Linked DNA regions of Homo sapiens. The protein of the gene in region 1 interacts with the protein of each later gene in a pairwise test. Each region holds a gene or a part of one and is shown in the gene's direction. Other genes may lie near its edges.

The links. The genes of interacting proteins can lie anywhere in the genome.
Region 2: the proteins of ABCC2 (region 1) and AZIN1 interact in a two-hybrid assay, tested with the Homo sapiens proteins (one large-scale study listed by BioGRID and IntAct).

What each region holds. Positions count from the first base shown.
Region 1 is NC_000010.11:99,831,140-99,834,639, forward strand, and holds part of ABCC2 (ATP-binding cassette sub-family C member 2), read left to right. Parts: intron 1-471; coding exon 472-691; intron 692-837; coding exon 838-992; intron 993-3,240; coding exon 3,241-3,396; intron 3,397-3,500. UniProt on the Homo sapiens protein: ATP-dependent transporter of the ATP-binding cassette (ABC) family that binds and hydrolyzes ATP to enable active transport of various substrates including many drugs, toxicants and endogenous compound across cell membranes.
Region 2 is NC_000008.11:102,829,664-102,833,163, reverse strand, and holds part of AZIN1 (antizyme inhibitor 1), read left to right. Parts: coding exon 1-108; intron 109-3,227; coding exon 3,228-3,343; intron 3,344-3,500.

The sequences.
Region 1 (3,500 bases):
ATAATTCAAATTAATGAAATTTAACCACAAATTTCAAGGTCGGCAGTAGAACCCCATCATCTGTTCCACTCTGATTTTTTGTTTGTGTGTTTATTTTAGATACAGGGTCTCACTATGTTGCCCAGGCTGGACTAAAACCTCAGGGCTCAAGAGATCCTCCCACACCAGCCTTCTGAGTAGCTGGGACTACAGGGGCATGCTATCATGTCTGGCTTGTCCCAATCTGTTTTTATATCTTCTCCTCTTAAATGCCTTTAGCTTTGATGATTATTTACCCTGCATTGTATTTCAGCATTGTTCTATTATCCTTCCTGGCACAGTGCAGAAATGGTGACCACAGACTACCAAATTTTGCTACCTGCTACCCATGCTCCCAGGGGACTCCACTTCTCCTTGTGGTTGGCATTCTAGGTGATTCCTTATCAAAAGCCATTAGGGAGTTCTACTAATATTGAGGTGGGGACTTTGCAGGTGAAGTTCTCCATCTACCTGGAGTACCTACAAGCAATAGGATTGTTTTCGATATTCTTCATCATCCTTGCGTTTGTGATGAATTCTGTGGCTTTTATTGGATCCAACCTCTGGCTCAGTGCTTGGACCAGTGACTCTAAAATCTTCAATAGCACCGACTATCCAGCATCTCAGAGGGACATGAGAGTTGGAGTCTACGGAGCTCTGGGATTAGCCCAAGGTATGTCTGATGGCTATGACATCTTACAGAATCTGTCTGGACCCTGTACTTTTCCTGGACTCAGGAATGCATTTGCCATTATGTCCTGGGCACAAGTCTTCAGGGATTCCTGTGCATGGTGCTGACAAAACTGCTTCCATCTCTAGGTATATTTGTGTTCATAGCACATTTCTGGAGTGCCTTTGGTTTCGTCCATGCATCAAATATCTTGCACAAGCAACTGCTGAACAATATCCTTCGAGCACCTATGAGATTTTTTGACACAACACCCACAGGCCGGATTGTGAACAGGTTTGCCGGCGTAAGTATCTCAAGAACTGTCAGGTGGTGTGTTTATATACTGAGGATCTTTCTGATAGGGAGGAATTATTATGTCCCCCTAGACAACACTGTTCAGTTCCAGTTCTTTTGTCACTCAACATGCAAGTGTTTCTTGAGTACCTGCTGTGAGCTCCCAAGAATCCTGGAGATTGAGGGATGAACATCTCTGACCCTTCAAGTAGCTCAGCATCTAGTGAAGAAGACAACCAAAGAAGTGAAGGATTATAATAGAATATAGTAAAACCAGTAACAGCAGTGTGTAGAAAGGTGGTCTGGGAGTACAAAGGAAAAAAAGGCACTAGCCCAGCCTGCGTGATAAAGGTGGGAAATGTCAGAAAAGGTGAAACTTAAGTCATAGAAGCAAGCCAGGGAGATGGCAAGGGTTGGGGGATGGCAGTAGAGCAGGGTGAGAAGGATTATTCTGCAGAGGAAGGAACATAAATAAAAGCACTGTCACAGCCTGGGACAGGAAATACAAGAGATAGTAGGATAACCCTTTGCTTGGCCTCTGCCTCCATTCCTGAAACTTCTATCTTGAATGCTTTAAGAATGAGTAAATTTGGTCTGGACTATGGAATAGAGCCATCAGTGATTTTAAAAAGTTCTCAAATATTGTTTCCATCTACCACAGATCCTGGACCCCTTGGCATTCACTCATTCATTCATTCAACAACCGTTATTGAGCACTTTCTATGAGCCAACTACTGTACTAGACACTGGGGCACTCAATGAATGTGAAGATCATAGATGTCTCTCTTCCATGGGCCAGACCCAACTCACTGATTTTTTAGTGTATCTGAGATGGGAATTCAGGAACAGAGGCAGAGATCAGGCAATTCTGAATGATAAGTAACTATCACCAGCACAGTTTTTAGCCCTGTGCTTATGGAGCAGCTCTGGACTCTTGTTTGTTGGTCTTGGGGCAGACATAGAAAGTATAGCTCACAGTCCACAGCCAGGTTCTGGGGACACAGTAACTGCTTCAAAAGTGGGCCATTAACTGGTCCCCCTGTGTCATCTTCCTCTGGGGCAGAAACAGTGGGCATGATGTCACTAGAGACAACTTCAATGGCCTTTCTGCTCTTTACTAGAACCTAAAAGAACACTCAATTTTGGGTGAGAAATTTCTCATAGTAATTTTGTAAAGATCACAGTTTTCCCCATGTTGTAATATATATAATCTTCTGGGAAAGAGAACACAGAGGTTTTCTGTGAGTTACTTAGGCAACAGTCATAGTTTGAAGACTGCTTTTGCATGAGAAAGGAAACTGTCATTAATTATATAGTATGTTTCGTTGGGGAGGTGGCTCAGACCTATTAAGGGGAGTTTGATCAAGGGGCCTCTGGGATCAATGGCTGAGTTAAGAGGAGATGGAGTGGAGGAAGGAAAGATGGAGACTCTGTGCCAGGTAAGGATCAAAAGTAATCTGCATAGAACTGATAACTGGTAGGGATTTCTTTTCTCTGCCAACTGTGGGTATAGTTATTTGCATTCTGATAGGACTTTGGGAAAGGTAGGTTAGACTCAGGAGTCATCCATGATTCAGAGCTTTCCTGGAAGACCATTATCCCTGATACAGTTTGAGAAATTCCAGAGATAACTTAAACTCACTTTGGTACTCACATATTACCAATCATAGAATCAATATAATCCCCACAAATTTAGGCAAGGGCAACCCAAAATATAAACCAAGCTTCTTGAGTGTTCTCCAAACCATCCATCCATTCATTCATTTTTCTTATTTGTTCATTTATTTCACATGACACGAAGGCAACATGGCAGTAAGACACATCTGTTCCCGCTGGGTTCCTTGGTTAGAACACTGTCCAGGCAGGCTCACATTCAACCCCAGCTCCCTTCCCCTTGGTCCTCTATGCTTAGCAGAGGAAGCAACTTCCTGAGTATTTTTAGTAGAGATGGGATTTCACCATGTTGGTCAGGCTGGTCTTGAACTCCCGATCTCAGGTGATCCACCCGCCTCGGCCTTGCAAAGTGCTGGGATTACAGGTGTGACCACCACGCCAGGCCTAAATGAAGAAATTATGGAAATGAAATTGGTTATTGGGGCAAGCAATGCAGCCTATTGCAAATGAACACAATGAAATGATTACATGAAGGAGTACTGGGAACACACAGAATCCAACAGATTCCTTGCTAGAACTAGGAAGATGTAAACTATCTTAGGAAGACCTCAGTGATGGTGTATCTCTCCTAATCGTTTTCCTAGGATATTTCCACAGTGGATGACACCCTGCCTCAGTCCTTGCGCAGCTGGATTACATGCTTCCTGGGGATAATCAGCACCCTTGTCATGATCTGCATGGCCACTCCTGTCTTCACCATCATCGTCATTCCTCTTGGCATTATTTATGTATCTGTTCAGGTAGGTTTGGAAATGGCTAAGTCATCCTTCCTTCCTCTCTATCTATAAAAGCCCAGCCTCTTTCCTGAGAATCTTCTCTCTGATTCATTGCTAGTCACTCACTC
Region 2 (3,500 bases), on another chromosome or scaffold:
TTAAGATAATTTCAGAACCCGGAAGCTACTATGTGTCTTCTGCATTTACACTCGCAGTTAATATCATAGCAAAGAAAGTTGTTGAAAATGATAAATTTCCCTCTGGAGGTAAGTTATAAAGTTTATAGTTTTATTTTTGTTGGTAGATAATTGCAGTTAGTCTGGAAATGAGCAGATGGTCATGAAGTTGTAGGTGGTTTTCAGCTTTTAAAAATCTTAAAACTGGCCGGGCGTGGTGGCTCACGCCTATAATCCCAGCACTTTGGGAGGCAGAGCCAGGTGGATCACAAGGTCAGGAGTTCGAGACCAGCCTGGCCAATATGGTGGAAACCCCATCTCTACTAAAAATATAAAACTTAGCTGGTCATGGTGGCGCACACCTGTAATCCCGGCTACTCGGGAGGCTGAGGCACAAAAATCGCTTGAATCCGGGAGGCAGAGGTTGCAGTGAGCCAAGATTGTGCCACTGGACTCCAGCCTGGGTGACAAGAGTGAGACTCCGTCTCAAAAAAAAAAAAAATCTTAAAGCCAAGGTCCCATTCCGTAAGACTTCCAAATCCAACTTTCTTGGTACTGATGTTTAGATACGTGTGTTTTAGATAAATGTCTAGCAGATGATTAATTCTCATCCATTATTCAGAACTACTTTTATTGTGATCTTTTCTGTTCTCCTTACCTCACATGGGTCAGAGGGAGGCTCTGTTTTCACACTTTCTCACATAAGGGCCACAAAGAGTCCCTGTAATCTAACTCAAGTCAAACCAACAAAAAGGCACTAGACAGTACCATCTTGTTGGCTAATATTGTAGGAAATACTGTTTTACATTAAGAAGACTTTTTTTTTTGGCTGTGGACTAATCCACAGCCCATAGGAAAGTTGTCCATTTCCCCAATATTGTCTTTTTTTTACAGCTTTGTTTTTCCTTGCTTAGAATCCAGTCCAGGACCACATTGAATTCGTCATTTCTCCTTGAATCTAGATAAAGTTTCTCAGCTCATTACTTTGTATTTTTTAACTTTGACATTTTTGAAGAGTAGAAATTTCATAGCTGATCCTTAGTTTGGGTTTGTTGGATGATTCCTCATGATTAATTTTTTAGGCTATGCATTTGGGGCATGAAGTCCACTAAAGTGTTACTCTGTTCTTCTCACTTCATCATGTTAGGAGGCACATGATAGTGGCCAATTCTAATATTGATGATGCTAGGTGTTTTTTCTTGTTGTTTTGTCGCCCAGGCTGGAGTACAGTGGCTCCATCAGGGCTCATTGCAGTCTCCACCTCCCGGCTTAAGCAGTCCTCCTACCTTCAACCTCTTGCATAGCTGGGACTACAGGCATATGCCACCATGCCTGGCTAGGTTTTTTTCTATTTTTATTTTGTAGAGGGTTTCGTCGTGTTTCTCAGGCTGGTCTCAAACTCCTGAGCTCAAGTGATCCACCTGCCTCAGCCTCCCAAAGTGCTGGGATTACAAACTTGAGTCAATACACCTGGCCTTATGATTTTTTTTTTTTTTTTTTTTTTGAGACTGTTTTGCTCTTGTTGCCCAAGCTGGAATGCAGTGGCATGATCTCAGCTCACTGCAACCTCCACCTCCCAGGTTCAAGCAATTCTCCTGCCTCAGCCTCCCAAGTAGCTGGGATTACAGGTGCGTGCCACCACACCCGGCTAGATTTTTTTTTTTTTTTTTAATTTAAATGCTAGTTTTGAGCACTTGTTTAAGGTTGTGTCAGGCAGGTTTCTTTCCATTGTGAAGTGGCAAGTTTAAATTAGAGACTCTGTAAACTACCTGTTTTTAACCAGATTTTCACCCCATTAGTTTTAGCATCTATTGTTGAATTTCTAACTTCATTATTGTTTATATTAGTTGGCCTTTACTTAAAGAATATCTTTTCCTTCCCTCCTGTTTATGAGTTTAGACTCATAGATCTTTATTCAATAGGTTTATATAATCTGTTACTCTTATTTTTCCCTTGACATGTCTCCATTATTCTCAGAGCAATTCGTTATTTTTTGGTATATCAAGATGTTCCAGGCTCATTTTAACCTTTTAAATGAGCCTCAGTCCCGTAATCAGTTGTTTCTCCAGGGAGCCTTGGTTTGTTTTCGTGGAGAGTGATATTTTAAAAACCTGAAAATTAGTATTGGTTGTGCTAAGAGTAGAGTAGCTGTGAGTAGAATGGGCGTTTTCAAAGGTTTCAAAGTGAGGTGAGAGGATCTATTGATCCCTGAAGCTCGAGGCTGCGGTGACCTGTGATCACGCTACTGCACTGTAGCCTGAGTAACAGTGAGGCCCTGTCTCTACACACACACACAGATTCCCACTGGCAGTGTATACATGTGAGCTCTGGTTGCTCCTCCTGCTCTCTGATGTTTTGTAGTGTCAGTCTTTAAGTTGATCCAGTCAGTAGGTTGGTGGTAATGGTAGTCCATTGTGGTTTTAATTTGCATTTACCTGATGACTAACGATGTAGAGCACTGTTTTCTTTTTCTTTTTCTTTTCTTTTTTTTTTTTGTTTTTGAGACAGGGTTTTTGCTCTGTTATCCAGGCTGGAATGAGTGGCACAATCTCAACTTTTATTTTTAATTCTACATTCAAACACATATTTAACTCCTTGTGCATATATTGCCTTCCCCTTGCTGATTTGAAAAGAAACTAAAAAGTGTTTTTCCTTGCTGCTTCATTTCCTCTTTTTTTGAAACAGCAACTATCAGAAAGTCTTCTAGAATCTTAATACTTTTTTCTTTTTTTTTTTTTTTTTTTGAGACAGGGTCTCATTCTGTCACCCAGGCTGGAGTGCAGTAGCACAGCCTTGGCTCACTGTCTCACTGTCTTACTGTAACCTCCGCCTCCCGGATTCAAGGGATTCTAGTGCCTCAGCCTCCCAAGTAGCTGTGATTACAGGCATGCACCACCACACCTGGCTAATTTTTGTATTTTTAGTAGAGATGGAGTTTTGCCATGTTGTTCAGGCTGATCTTGAACTCCTGACCTCAAGTGATCCTCCCACCTCAGCCTCACAAAGTGCTAGGATTACAGGTATGAGCCACCGCATCCAGCCCTAGAGCACTCTTTTCTTGTGCTCATTGGTTATCTTCCTTTGTGAAATGCGTGCTCTATGTGTCTTTTTAAGTTTAAATAGTTTGAGAAATGTGAAAATTACATTAATTTGTTTCATATGAGCCATTTTATTAAAAATTCATTTTCCCCTTTCCTGTTTTATTCCAGTAGAAAAAACCGGAAGTGATGAACCAGCCTTCATGTATTATATGAATGATGGTGTTTATGGTTCTTTTGCAAGTAAACTGTCTGAGGACTTAAATACCATTCCAGAGGTTCACAAGGCAAGTTTTATCAGAAATATCAAAACCTATTTGGCATTTTATAAGCTGAGCTGTTATTTTTAAGATGCTTCCCAGTTTTTTGAAAAACATCTTAGAATGGGGAAAAATGTCCTTTTTGAGGATTTGCGTTCTTCTGGTGGAGTCCCTTTTTTAGTTT